3 linked regions of the Homo sapiens genome follow. The protein of the gene in region 3 purifies or fractionates together with the protein of the main gene of each other region. This does not show direct contact. Each region holds a gene or a part of one and is shown on either strand. Other genes may lie near its edges. The genes, in order: BUD13, DNAJC17 and KIN.

Evidence for each region.
Region 1: the proteins of KIN (region 3) and BUD13 purify together in Homo sapiens (affinity purification with mass spectrometry, with the first as the bait; one large-scale study listed by BioGRID). This does not show direct contact.
Region 2: the proteins of KIN (region 3) and DNAJC17 fractionate together in Homo sapiens (co-fractionation; one large-scale study listed by BioGRID). This does not show direct contact.

The regions. Positions count from the first base shown.
Region 1 is NC_000011.10:116,759,336-116,762,987, forward strand, and holds part of BUD13 (BUD13 homolog), read right to left. Parts: coding exon 3,218-3,652; intron 1,618-3,217; coding exon 1,400-1,617; intron 1-1,399. UniProt on the Homo sapiens protein: Involved in pre-mRNA splicing as component of the activated spliceosome. As a component of the minor spliceosome, involved in the splicing of U12-type introns in pre-mRNAs.
Region 2 is NC_000015.10:40,776,443-40,780,094, reverse strand, and holds part of DNAJC17 (dnaJ homolog subfamily C member 17), read left to right. Parts: intron 1-97; coding exon 98-167; intron 168-491; coding exon 492-550; intron 551-784; coding exon 785-872; intron 873-3,467; coding exon 3,468-3,553; intron 3,554-3,652. UniProt on the Homo sapiens protein: May negatively affect PAX8-induced thyroglobulin/TG transcription.
Region 3 is NC_000010.11:7,777,944-7,781,595, reverse strand, and holds part of KIN (DNA/RNA-binding protein KIN17), read left to right. Parts: intron 1-1,288; coding exon 1,289-1,332; intron 1,333-1,417; coding exon 1,418-1,540; intron 1,541-2,576; coding exon 2,577-2,758; intron 2,759-3,652. UniProt on the Homo sapiens protein: Involved in DNA replication and the cellular response to DNA damage. May participate in DNA replication factories and create a bridge between DNA replication and repair mediated by high molecular weight complexes.

The sequences.
Region 1 (3,652 bases), on a different chromosome or scaffold from region 3:
CTATAAAAGAAAACCATCATCAAAACCATCAAGTTTAAGAATAAGCAGAAACACTAACAATATATTAAATGGAGGGCTACGCATTTGTATTTCTGACTTTTCAGTATATAAACTGCACACATGAAGACTATCTCAGGTCATCTGATCAGAAACCAGTATAAAGCACTAAGCCTTCCATTAGAGACCCATACTGATAAAATATTCCATTTACAGTACAAACTCAAGCAAACCTAAGATCCTTAAATTGTGGATATATTTCATGGTAATAACAGAAGATCTAACAAATGAAAACTTTTTGCTAATTTCCACTTAGCATCAAGATAGCAAATCAGCCCACGAATGAAGCACACAGTATATCTTGATATCCTTCAGCAACGAAATTGGAATAATATTAAGTTGTCCATGAACTAAATGGATATATAAAATGCCAAGAGGTCCAGCTGAAACAGAGACCTCTTTTTTCCCTAAAAAAGAAGAATCTCACTTCCTGGGTAAAGAACAGGCTGGTCTACCCTGCCAGGACCAGTCTTCTCAGAGTCTTCTACAGACAAGATTTACCTGATAAGTCTGCACTGGGGAGAAAAATGCACATCACAGGCTCTATCATTCTGTTTCTTAACCACTTACAAATAAGATTCCTTTACTACTACCAATGTTCTTTACAATATAATTACTCAAGGTTCATATGGATTTTGGGGTTTTTTGGCTAATTCATCAAGCCTTATCATGAATTTAAAACAAACCATTGACTTCTCAGACAACATGATTTCTAAAAGTGGTTTCATATTTTAAGTGCCTCTCCTTAAGCTCTGGATACAGAGACCTATAGTCCAATTTATACTAGTAAATCACTAACACTAGATGCTTACTTTGTCCCAGACACTGTGCTAAGAGTTTTACTTACACTGGCTTAATTATCATAACAACCTTACACAGTAGGTACTACTATTATCCACAATTTACAGATAAAGAAACTGAGGTTTAGAGATATTAAGCATCTTGCCCAAATCTCACAGACAGTAAGTGGCAGAAGGAGAATTTCTGTATGTGATCCGTTTGACACAATGCTTGTGCTCCAAACTTCACTCTGCAAATTACAGTCCTCGGTTTATTCCTAAGAAAATAGGAAGTTTTTCTAGACCTGTTAAAATGAGATTGTAGAATTAAGAGGCTATAAACGCAGAAGCTACTTGGGAAATCTGGTATCTGTAAGTCCATCTGGGATGGGTTATAGCCAGTTTGCCTTCAGAAGGAAAGACCTCCAAAGGTCCTTTTAACTAAGATTTACTACACTTCTCAGAGCTACATCCTTCTTCTTGGCTTGATTCTCTGGGACATATATAAAGCTGAGAGAGAAGAGTCACACGAAAAGAAGGACATGGCTCCTGAAAATCCTGACCTTCTTTCCAGGAGGCTGACTCCTTCGAGGCGGGGACAGGTCAGAATCAGAAGATTTGGTCCTCTGTCTCCTCCTTGGTGGAGAGAGGTCAGAATCAGAGCTCCGGTGTCTAGGTCTATTCCGTGGAGGTGACAGATCTGAATCAGAATCCTGGTGCCCTGGACTTTGTTTATGCCGTGGAGAAGAAAGGTCTGAATCAGTTGCTTTCTGGCAGTCACCTGGATAGGAGCAAAGAATCTGTGTGACTCTGATGTCCTCTAGGTGAAGAACTTACATGAAATCTCCTATGGCTGGGAGAAGAACCTAGAAATTAAAGAATTCCTTACATTATTATTATTTTTTTTTTTTTGAGACAGTCTCAGGCTGGAGTGCAGTGGCATGATCTCAGCTCACTGCAACCTCCGCCTCCTGGGTTCAAGCAATTATTGTGCCTCAGCCTCCCAAGTAGCTGGAATTACAGGTGTGTGCCACCACGCCCAGCTAATTTTTGTGTTTTTAGTAGAGATGGGGTTTCGCTATGTTGGCCAGGCTGGTCTTGAACTCCTGACCTGAGGTGATCTGCCCACCTCGGCCTCCAAAGTGCTGGGATTATAGGCTTGAGCCACCATGCCTGGCCAAAGAGTTCTTTAATCCCCTTGGAAGAATCTAAAAAGATAACTTACCAAGCTAATGTACAATATTTATTTAGTTTTCCTATGAAGAATTATCATTAACCTAAACATAAGTATGGATGGCACAGGAGAAGAGCAAAGTCAGAAACAACTTTTAAGACCAACAGGTAGAATATGGCATTCTATTCCCAAGTGACCACTGACTGTAACTGGTGTGTAAAATCTCCACACACTCCTCTATGTCAGTAACCCCACCCATGGAAAGACAAAATAACTTGTAGTCAGCTCTCCATAGTGTGGCAAAAGTCAGAAATACCTGGAATATAGTCTGATATCCTTGGACTAAAGGATAACAAAGTACTTTAATTTTAAAATTAAAATAGTTCCTAGGAACAAAAGAGGGAGTAAAAAATTTCACTGCACAGGCCTAAGTTCTAGCGACTGTATAAGCATCACAAGTCACCTCCCAAAGGGCATTCTGCAATATGTATCGACAGTCTTTAAAACGCCCACATCTTCTGACCCAGTACATCAACTTCTCAGCTTTCTAGGAAACTTATATAGAAGTAGTTGAATTTCGAGGAAATCTATCTAGAAGTAGATAAGGAAATAATCCAAAATGGGGACAACAGTTTATGTACAAGGATGTTCATTATAGAATTACAGAAGAAAAAACTTAGAAATAACCAAAAACATTCATTATTAGGAAAATGGTTAAATTTGTAATTAAACACTATTAAAAATTATACTAACATAAAGATGTTTTATGGCCTGAGGAAGACTACGTTAAGAAAGGACAGCAGGCAAGATTGCACATGCAATACAAATGTTCTACACAGCCAGAGCTCAACTATATAAAAAATGCAAACCAAAAAAGACTAAGATGACCCTGGCCACAACACTAACAATAATTGCCTCTGAATGACAGAATTTTGTGTCACATTTTATCTTTATATACTTCTGTACATTCCAAAGCTTCTGCAACAAATAAATTGTACTTTTATATGGGGTGGAGCGAGCACATAAAAAGACATATGAAAACCTTCCTCCCTGCCACCATAATTGTTCAACTCTCCCAAACCCAGCCTCTCACTTTTCAAAACTTTCCCAAAGAAATTCCATTCTTATACCTAATAAATCAACTAAACGGCCAAAAGAAAGCTCCCAGGGATACATACATCCCTCTCATGGACAGTCATATGCTCACCTTTGGAATCAAGCTGCTTCTTGTCTCCAAAATGGGATTTTGCTTGCTTTTTTCGTGGAGGAGAGATGTCAGGGTCATACTCATATTTGCTGTTCTTTGGGAATGACAAATGGGAGGCTCCTGACTCCTTCCAATGTGGAGAAGTCTTGCTAGAGGCTCTTTCTGGGGCTTTACCACTTTTGGTTCTGGGCAGGGAATAAGTGACATTAGGAGCCAAATCAGGGGAGTCATGACGGGCCCTTCTGAGTTGCTGTGTGTCTGAAGAGCCAAGAGTCCTCCTAGATGTGTCAGGGGAGTTGTTATGGACCCTTCTGGGGGAAGAGATATCTGAGGAACCATGACGGGCTCGCCTAGGAGGAGAGGGATCTGGTGAATCATGACGGACTCTCCTAGGAGATGCACCTGAAGAATTATGCTGAGGCCTCCTTGGGGGAG
Region 2 (3,652 bases), on a different chromosome or scaffold from region 3:
AGGTGTGCATGGGATTCCCCTTACCCATTGAGCAAGGTTTTCCTGTTTGTCCCTGGGATGAGAGTGAATGGCCATGTCTTCTGTCTGACTCTTCCAGGTAAAGAAGGCGTATAGGCAGAAGGCCCTCTCCTGCCACCCAGACAAAAATCCAGATAATCCCAGAGCAGGTGAGACTCTTCTCAGGGCGTGGGGAGAAAGAAACCCACTCACCCGGGCATTGTGTTTCCCGATGTAAGCTCTGCATGTGAGTGCTGTGGGGTGTAAGCACACATTGCCTGGCTCCAGGCAATGGGTCCCAGGGCTTCCCTCCTGTGAGGGGTGTCTGGTCAGTTGCTGATATGCTCACCCCTCCTTGTTGGTCTGTCATCTGCTGATGTCGGCTTGTCTGCCATCCTGTGACTTCTTTGAAGATTTTTTTTTTTTTTGAGGGAGCACACCATTACGAAGTCTTAACTTTATTTTTCTTCTGTCTTTTTGATCCTTATGTTTAGCTGAACTCTTCCACCAGCTTTCTCAGGCCTTGGAGGTGCTGACCGATGCTGCAGCCAGGGTAAGCACAGCCTCCTTCATCGGAATCGTCCCCCATGGTTAGAGACCACTGCTGCCTCTCAACCTCGGTCCTCTGCCCTTTGCCATGTGGCACAGTCCTTGCTGTCTAAGCCCAGGAGACCCAGTCACCAGGCTGCCACTCTGATGGCTCGTGGGCTAGGGGCCAGGCAGATTGCCGGGGCTCTGTCTTTACTCTCTCACTGACCCTCTGCCCTGTGCCCCTTTCTCCTGCCAGGCTGCATATGACAAGGTCAGGAAAGCCAAGAAGCAAGCAGCAGAGAGGACCCAGAAACTTGATGAGAAAAGGAAGAAAGTGAAGCTTGGTAGGTGCCATCATAGTGCTCGGTGGCCTGTGGTTTCCTGTGGTCATTTTCATTCATCTCCCTCACCTGAAGCTTCACTTCCAGCAACTCATCTCAAAGCCTTTTGGCTCAGGCTCTGGGCAAAACGCTGTTCTTAGAGGTTGGTTCCTAAAGACACTCTTAGGAATAATAACAATAATAAGGTTTAATATTAGCTAAGCATTGTGACAAATGCCTTATTGTCCCTTTAATTATCATAACTATACAAGGAAGTGTGGGTACTAAACCTTTTTTAAGAACATGGTTTTTTGAGACAGGGTCTCACCCTGTCACCTAGGCTGGAGCGCAGTGGCATGATCTCGGCTCACTGCAACCCCCACCCTCTGGGTTCAGGCGATTCTTGTGCCTCAGCCTCACGATAGTGGGACTACAGGCATGCACCACTACGCCCGGCTAATTTTGTTCCGTTTTTTTAGAGATGGAGTTTCACCATGTTGGCCAGGCTGGTCTTAAACTCCTGGCCTCAAGCTATCCACCTCAGTCTCCCAAAGTGCTGGTATTACAGCTGGTGAGCTGCCGCACCTGGCCTCTGAAGCCATTTTTTATAGGCAAAGGAGCTAAGGCACCAAAAGTTTAAGAGCTTGCTGGAGGTGGGATTTAAACTTATCCAGTGTGAGTAAAATTGGTGCTTGTGGCCGGGCGCGGTGGCTCACGCCTGTAATCCCAGCACTTTGGGAGGCCGAGGCGGGTGGATCACGACGTCAGGAGTTCGAGACCAGCCTGGCCAAGATGGTGAAACCCCTTCTCTACTAAAAATACAAAAATTAGCTGGGTGTGGTGGCGGGTGCCTGTAATCCCAACTACTCGAGAAGTTGAGGCAGAGAATTGCTTGAACCCGGGAGGCAGAGGTTGCAGTGAGCTGAGATCACGCTGCTGTGCTCTAGCCTGGGTGACAGAGCAAAACTCCATCTCAAAAAACAAAACAAAACAAAAAAATTGGTGCTTGTATTCACCATTTCTGGCTGAGTCTTCTTCTTCTTTTTTTTTTTTTTAAAGAAAGACGGGGTTTTGTACTGTCACCCAGGCTAGGGTGGCACCATCATGGCTCACTGCAGCCTCAAACTCCTGGGCTCAAGCAGTCCTTCTGCCTTGGCCTCCTGAGTAGCTGGGACTACAGGTGCGAGCCGCTGTGCCCGGCTGGGTCTTTTAATTTGTTCTAACCCCAATTCCTACCCAGACTTTTCACTTTGAGAAGCTCCCTCAGAAGGATTCAAAGAGGTCCAGGCTTTCTCTTCTCTAATAGCTTTATTGAGGTATTCTTTGTATATCACAACATCAACCCATTTCAAGTGTACACTTCAATGATTTTTCGTAAATTTACTAAATGATGCAACTCTGACTATAAATCAGATTTGGAACATTTTCATCAACCCAATAAGATTGCTGCAAGCATTTTTTTTTTCTCACTTAAAAAAAAGTCACTGGTTATAGCAGCATGGTCCAAGCACTCTTTTTTTTTTTTTCTTAAACGGAGTTTCGCTCTTGTTGCCCAGGCTGGAGTGCAGTGGCACGATCTCGGCTCACTTCAACCTCTGCCTCCTGGGTTCAAGCGATTCTCCTGCCTCAGCCTCCCGAGTAGCTGGGACTAAGTTGCGCACCACCACACCCGGCTAATTTTTGTATTTTTAGTAGAGACGGAGTTTTGCCACATTGGCCAGGCTGGTCTCGAACTCCTGACCTCAGGTGATCCACCCCTCTTGGCCTCCCAAAGTGCTGGGATTACAGGCGTGAGCCACCGCGCCTGGCCCAGTCCAAGCATTCTTTACTCAAGTTTCTCCTTTTCCTCTTGCTCTTCAACATCCATATATTTTAATATGTGCATATAGCATCCCAATATCTATTTCTATATTAAAAGAAAAGCAAGTGCCAGGAGACCCCATCTCAAAAAAAAAAAAAAAAAAAGAGAGAGAGAGAAAAGGAGAGTCTAAGTAAGTAAAGTGCACAAACTTCTCTGGACTAAGAGAAGGGTTTCTCACAGCAGCTGGCCTGGCACATGGTTGCAAGCAGGTTTCTCTTGGAAGGTAACGCCCTCACACAATCCAGGACCCGGGGTGATGCCCTAACACTCTGCCCATCCCTGTAGCCAGGTCCACAGTGAGGCTTGGTAAATGTGAGTTGAGGTGGGAGGTAAAGGAGACAGTGAGAACCTGAGCTCAGTGTGTGAAAAGAATCAAAGCCAAAGCAAGTCAAGCTGTGGTGCCAAACCACAGGAATCGAGCCCAGCAGCTCCGCCCATTGGCACCCCTGACACATGGCCCTGGGCTGCTGACATAAGCACCACCCACACCCTGTTCACTAGAGAGAACCAGCTTGGTCAGTGTGAGCTGTTTTTAACTCTTCCAGACCCCTGGCCACTCTGCTAGACCCCATACTTCTGTGCTGTGATTTTTCTCAATGGAAATTGACTCGGGGGCGTGGGCATGGAGGGAGGGGGCAGAGTTACTGTATGATCTCGTCGTGATTGAGACTTTGGGGAGGCAGCCAGAGCTGGGGTGGGCCGAGGCCACATGGAAACTGAACAGACCAGCAGTCTGGTCATTCAACCCTTGTGTCTAGACCTGGAGGCCCGGGAGCGGCAGGCCCAGGCCCAGGAGAGTGAGGAGGAAGAGGAGAGCCGGAGCACCAGGACACTAGAGCAAGAGGTGAGCACTCAGGCACACTGGCCAGAAGGCCACCTGCAGGAGGAGGAGGTGGGGGAGGATGGACCTGGTGGTCGCCGTGGCTAGAGAGGGCATGCTCTT
Region 3 (3,652 bases):
GTGTGTGTAGAGACAGGGTCTCACTTTGTTGCCCAGGCTGGTCTTGAACTCCTGGGCTCAAGTGATCCTCCTCTCTCGATCTCCCAAAGTCCTGGGATTACAGGTATGAGCCATCATACCCAGGCCAAACAAAATTATTTAATGCTTTTCTATTGACTGCACAAAACTCAGCCTCTTTCGCATGACATTCGGGGTACTTCAAAAATTAGCCAAACCTTATTTTGGTTTCCCAGCCACCTCGTCTCCCTTATTCTACTCTACCCTCACTCTCACTCTCATTTTTATCAGCCATAAATTTTAGTCAAATTAGGCCATTTCTCAGATCTGTGAGGCTTTCATGTTTCTGTGCCAGCTGGAAATAGCTTTCTCTTGCAGTTCACCTCTAGGGTTCTACTTATCCTTCACTGACCACAATGAAATCACCTCTGGGCATCTCCTGTGACTCTTTCAATGGTATTTTGTTACACTTCTTCTTCAGTTTAACTTTTGTTATGATTGGTTATGCTAGATTGTAACCTCCTTGAAGGTTAAGATTTATGTCTTATTCACCCACGTTTATCTAGCACTTAATACGGTGTACCCAGCTCAGAGGGACATATTAAGTGCCAATTTCATGTGGAATCAGGGCAGTTTTGTTGTCATAGATAGACTGGGGTCATTATGCCACCATCAGTGGCACTAACAGACTTCATGAAGGACCCATTCCAAAGGTATGTGGTAACTGTTTCTATGACTGCTTTACCAAGACAAAAAATTTCAACTCCCAACTGACTTTTAACTTAATCCTTAAAAGCTATAATATTTTGGAGTTCTTTCCTTGATCAGTTTTTAAAGGTTCATAGCCATATTCATGTAGATGTTTCACATATCATTTGGACATTAAAACTATACTACTGGCTAGATGCAGTGGCTCACGCCTGTAGTCCCAGCACCTTGGGAGGCTGAGGCAGGTGGAGATCACCTGAGGTCACGAGTTTGAGACCAGCCTGCCCAACATGGTGAAACCCCATCCCTACGAAAAATACGAAACAAAATTAGCCAGGCGTGGTGGTGGACCCCTGTAATCCTGGCTACTTGGGAGGCTGAGGCAAGAGAATCACTTGAACCTGGGAAGTGGAGGTTGCAATGAGCTGAGATCACACTATTGCACTCCAGCTTGGGTGACGAGAACGAGACTCTGTCTCAAAAAAAACAAAAACAAAAAACTGTACTACTGCTTAAATTTCAAAAAGATGATGCTATATGTTTGTAGAAATTACCTTAATGCTTTCCTTTCTTTCTTTATTAGGGAATTCCGAAATGACTTTCTAGAACTTCTCAGGAGACGCTTTGGTAAACATTTTAAATATTGTGCAAATAACAGCTTTATAAATGGCATAATCTTCTGATGATCATCAGTGTCATATTTTGTTCTCAGGCACTAAAAGGGTCCACAACAACATTGTCTACAACGAATACATCAGCCACCGAGAGCACATCCACATGAATGCCACTCAGTGGGAAACTCTGACTGATTTTACTAAGTGGCTGGGCAGAGAAGGTAAGAATGAGATTTTAAAGTTGCTTTTTCTTTCCCACTTCTAATCTTCATAGGATGAGATGTTTGGGATAAGAAAAGAGAAAAAAAATTGGGTCAGTGTTTTGCTTTTTCATCGTGTTAGTTGATTCCATTTTGGGAGCATAATTTCTGCCTTAAGTTAATAGAACATCATATAACTGTTGGACATTAAATACTTAGATAGAACTGAATAAATACTATGCAAGGTAATACAGTTGTCTCTCAGTATCCGTGGGGGATTGGGTCCAGGACCCCTTGCTGATAACCAAAATTCACAGATACTCAAGTCCCTTATATAAAATAAAATGATGTAGCACTTGCATGTAACCTATATACATCCTCCCACATACTTTAAATCATCTCGAGATTTCTTATAATATTTAATACAATGTAAATAGTTTTTATACTCTATTGTTAGGGAAAAATGGGAAGGAAAAAATGTCTGTGCATGTTCAGTACAGATGCAACCATCCGTTTTTCTTTTTTTGAATATTTCTCACCCACGGTTGGTTGAATTCACATACAGTATCTAAATTTCATTAAATATAAATATGGAAAATCCCATTTGCTGCATGAATTTGTGTATTTGAATGTGTTTTAGTGTATTTGGTGTTTTGTTTTGTTTTGTTTTTGAGACTGAGTCTCGCTCTGTTGCCAGGCTGAAGTGCAGTGGTAGGATCTTGGCTCACTGCAACCTCTGCCTCCTGGGTTCAAGTGATTCTCCTGCCTCAGCCTCCTGAGTAGCTGGGATTACAGGTGTGCACCACCACGCCCAGCTAATTTTTGTATTTTTAGTAGAGATGGGATTCACCATGTTGGCCAGGCTGGTCTTGAGCTCCTGACCTCAAGTGATCCACCTGTGTTGGCCTCCTAAAGTGCTGAGATTACAGGTGTAAGCCACTGCGCTCGGCCTGATTTGTGTGTGTTTGAATGAATAAATATGCAGAGGTGAAACACATTCATATTTATGTTTTGCTTTGATTGTATGCTAATTTATGGCAGTGGCTGTTTTTTTAAGGCTTGTGCAAAGTGGACGAGACACCAAAAGGCTGGTATATTCAGTACATAGACAGGGACCCAGAAACTATCCGCCGGCAACTGGAACTGGAGAAAAAGAAAAAGCAGGACCTTGATGATGAAGAAAAAACTGCCAAATTTATTGAAGAGCAAGTGAGAAGAGGCCTGGAAGGGAAGGAACAGGTGGGTAAGCAACATCATCCTGAGAAGCAACGTCCAGAGGTCTAAAGAAGCACAATGGCTTGGTTTTTCTTTTTTGTTTTTGTTGTTGTTGTTGTTTTGGAGATGGAGTCTTGCTCTGCCGCCCAGGCTGGAGTGCAGTAGCGCAATCTCAGCTCACTGCAACCTCTGCCACCCAGGTTCAAGCAGTTCTCCTGCCTCAGCCTCCTGAGTACCTGGAACTACAGGCGCCCGCCACCACGCCCAGATAATTTTTGTATTGTTAGTAGAGACAGGGTTTCACCATGTTGGTCAGGCCGGTCTCCAACTCCTGACCTCGTGATCCGGCCGCCTCGGCCTCCCAAAGTTACAGGATTACAGGCGTGAGCCACCGTGCCCAGCCAGCTTGTGTCTTTTCAGCGTTGAATCAAGTTCTGTGGGCACTGTTCCTGAACTAAGAGGAGAACCAGCCTGGTGTCAAAAGCACATTTTTGGCATTGACAAACCTTGGTTTGATTCCTGACATACTAACTTCATAATCTTGTATAATTGCATAATATTTCCAAACCTCAATTTCCTTATATCTAAATAGAGACGCTACCTAATGGGAAGACATATACACAGATAATTTCAACTGATTATAATTAATTCAGTACTGGAGGTAAATGCAGCATGTGGAAACATAGAGAAGCAATGTTTACTCTGGCCTGGGGAGGACAGAGTATTTGAGGGTGGATACAACCCCAGTGCCCAGGAGTCTTGAAGAATCAGTGGGTGCAAGCCAGATGAATGGGGAGGGAAGGAGCTGAGGTGTTAGAATAACTAGGTTGGGGCATTTATTTCAACATATATTTATAAGCGCCTCCGCTGTGCCAGGATTCTTGTAGGCACAGGGAATACTCAGTGAACAAAAGATAC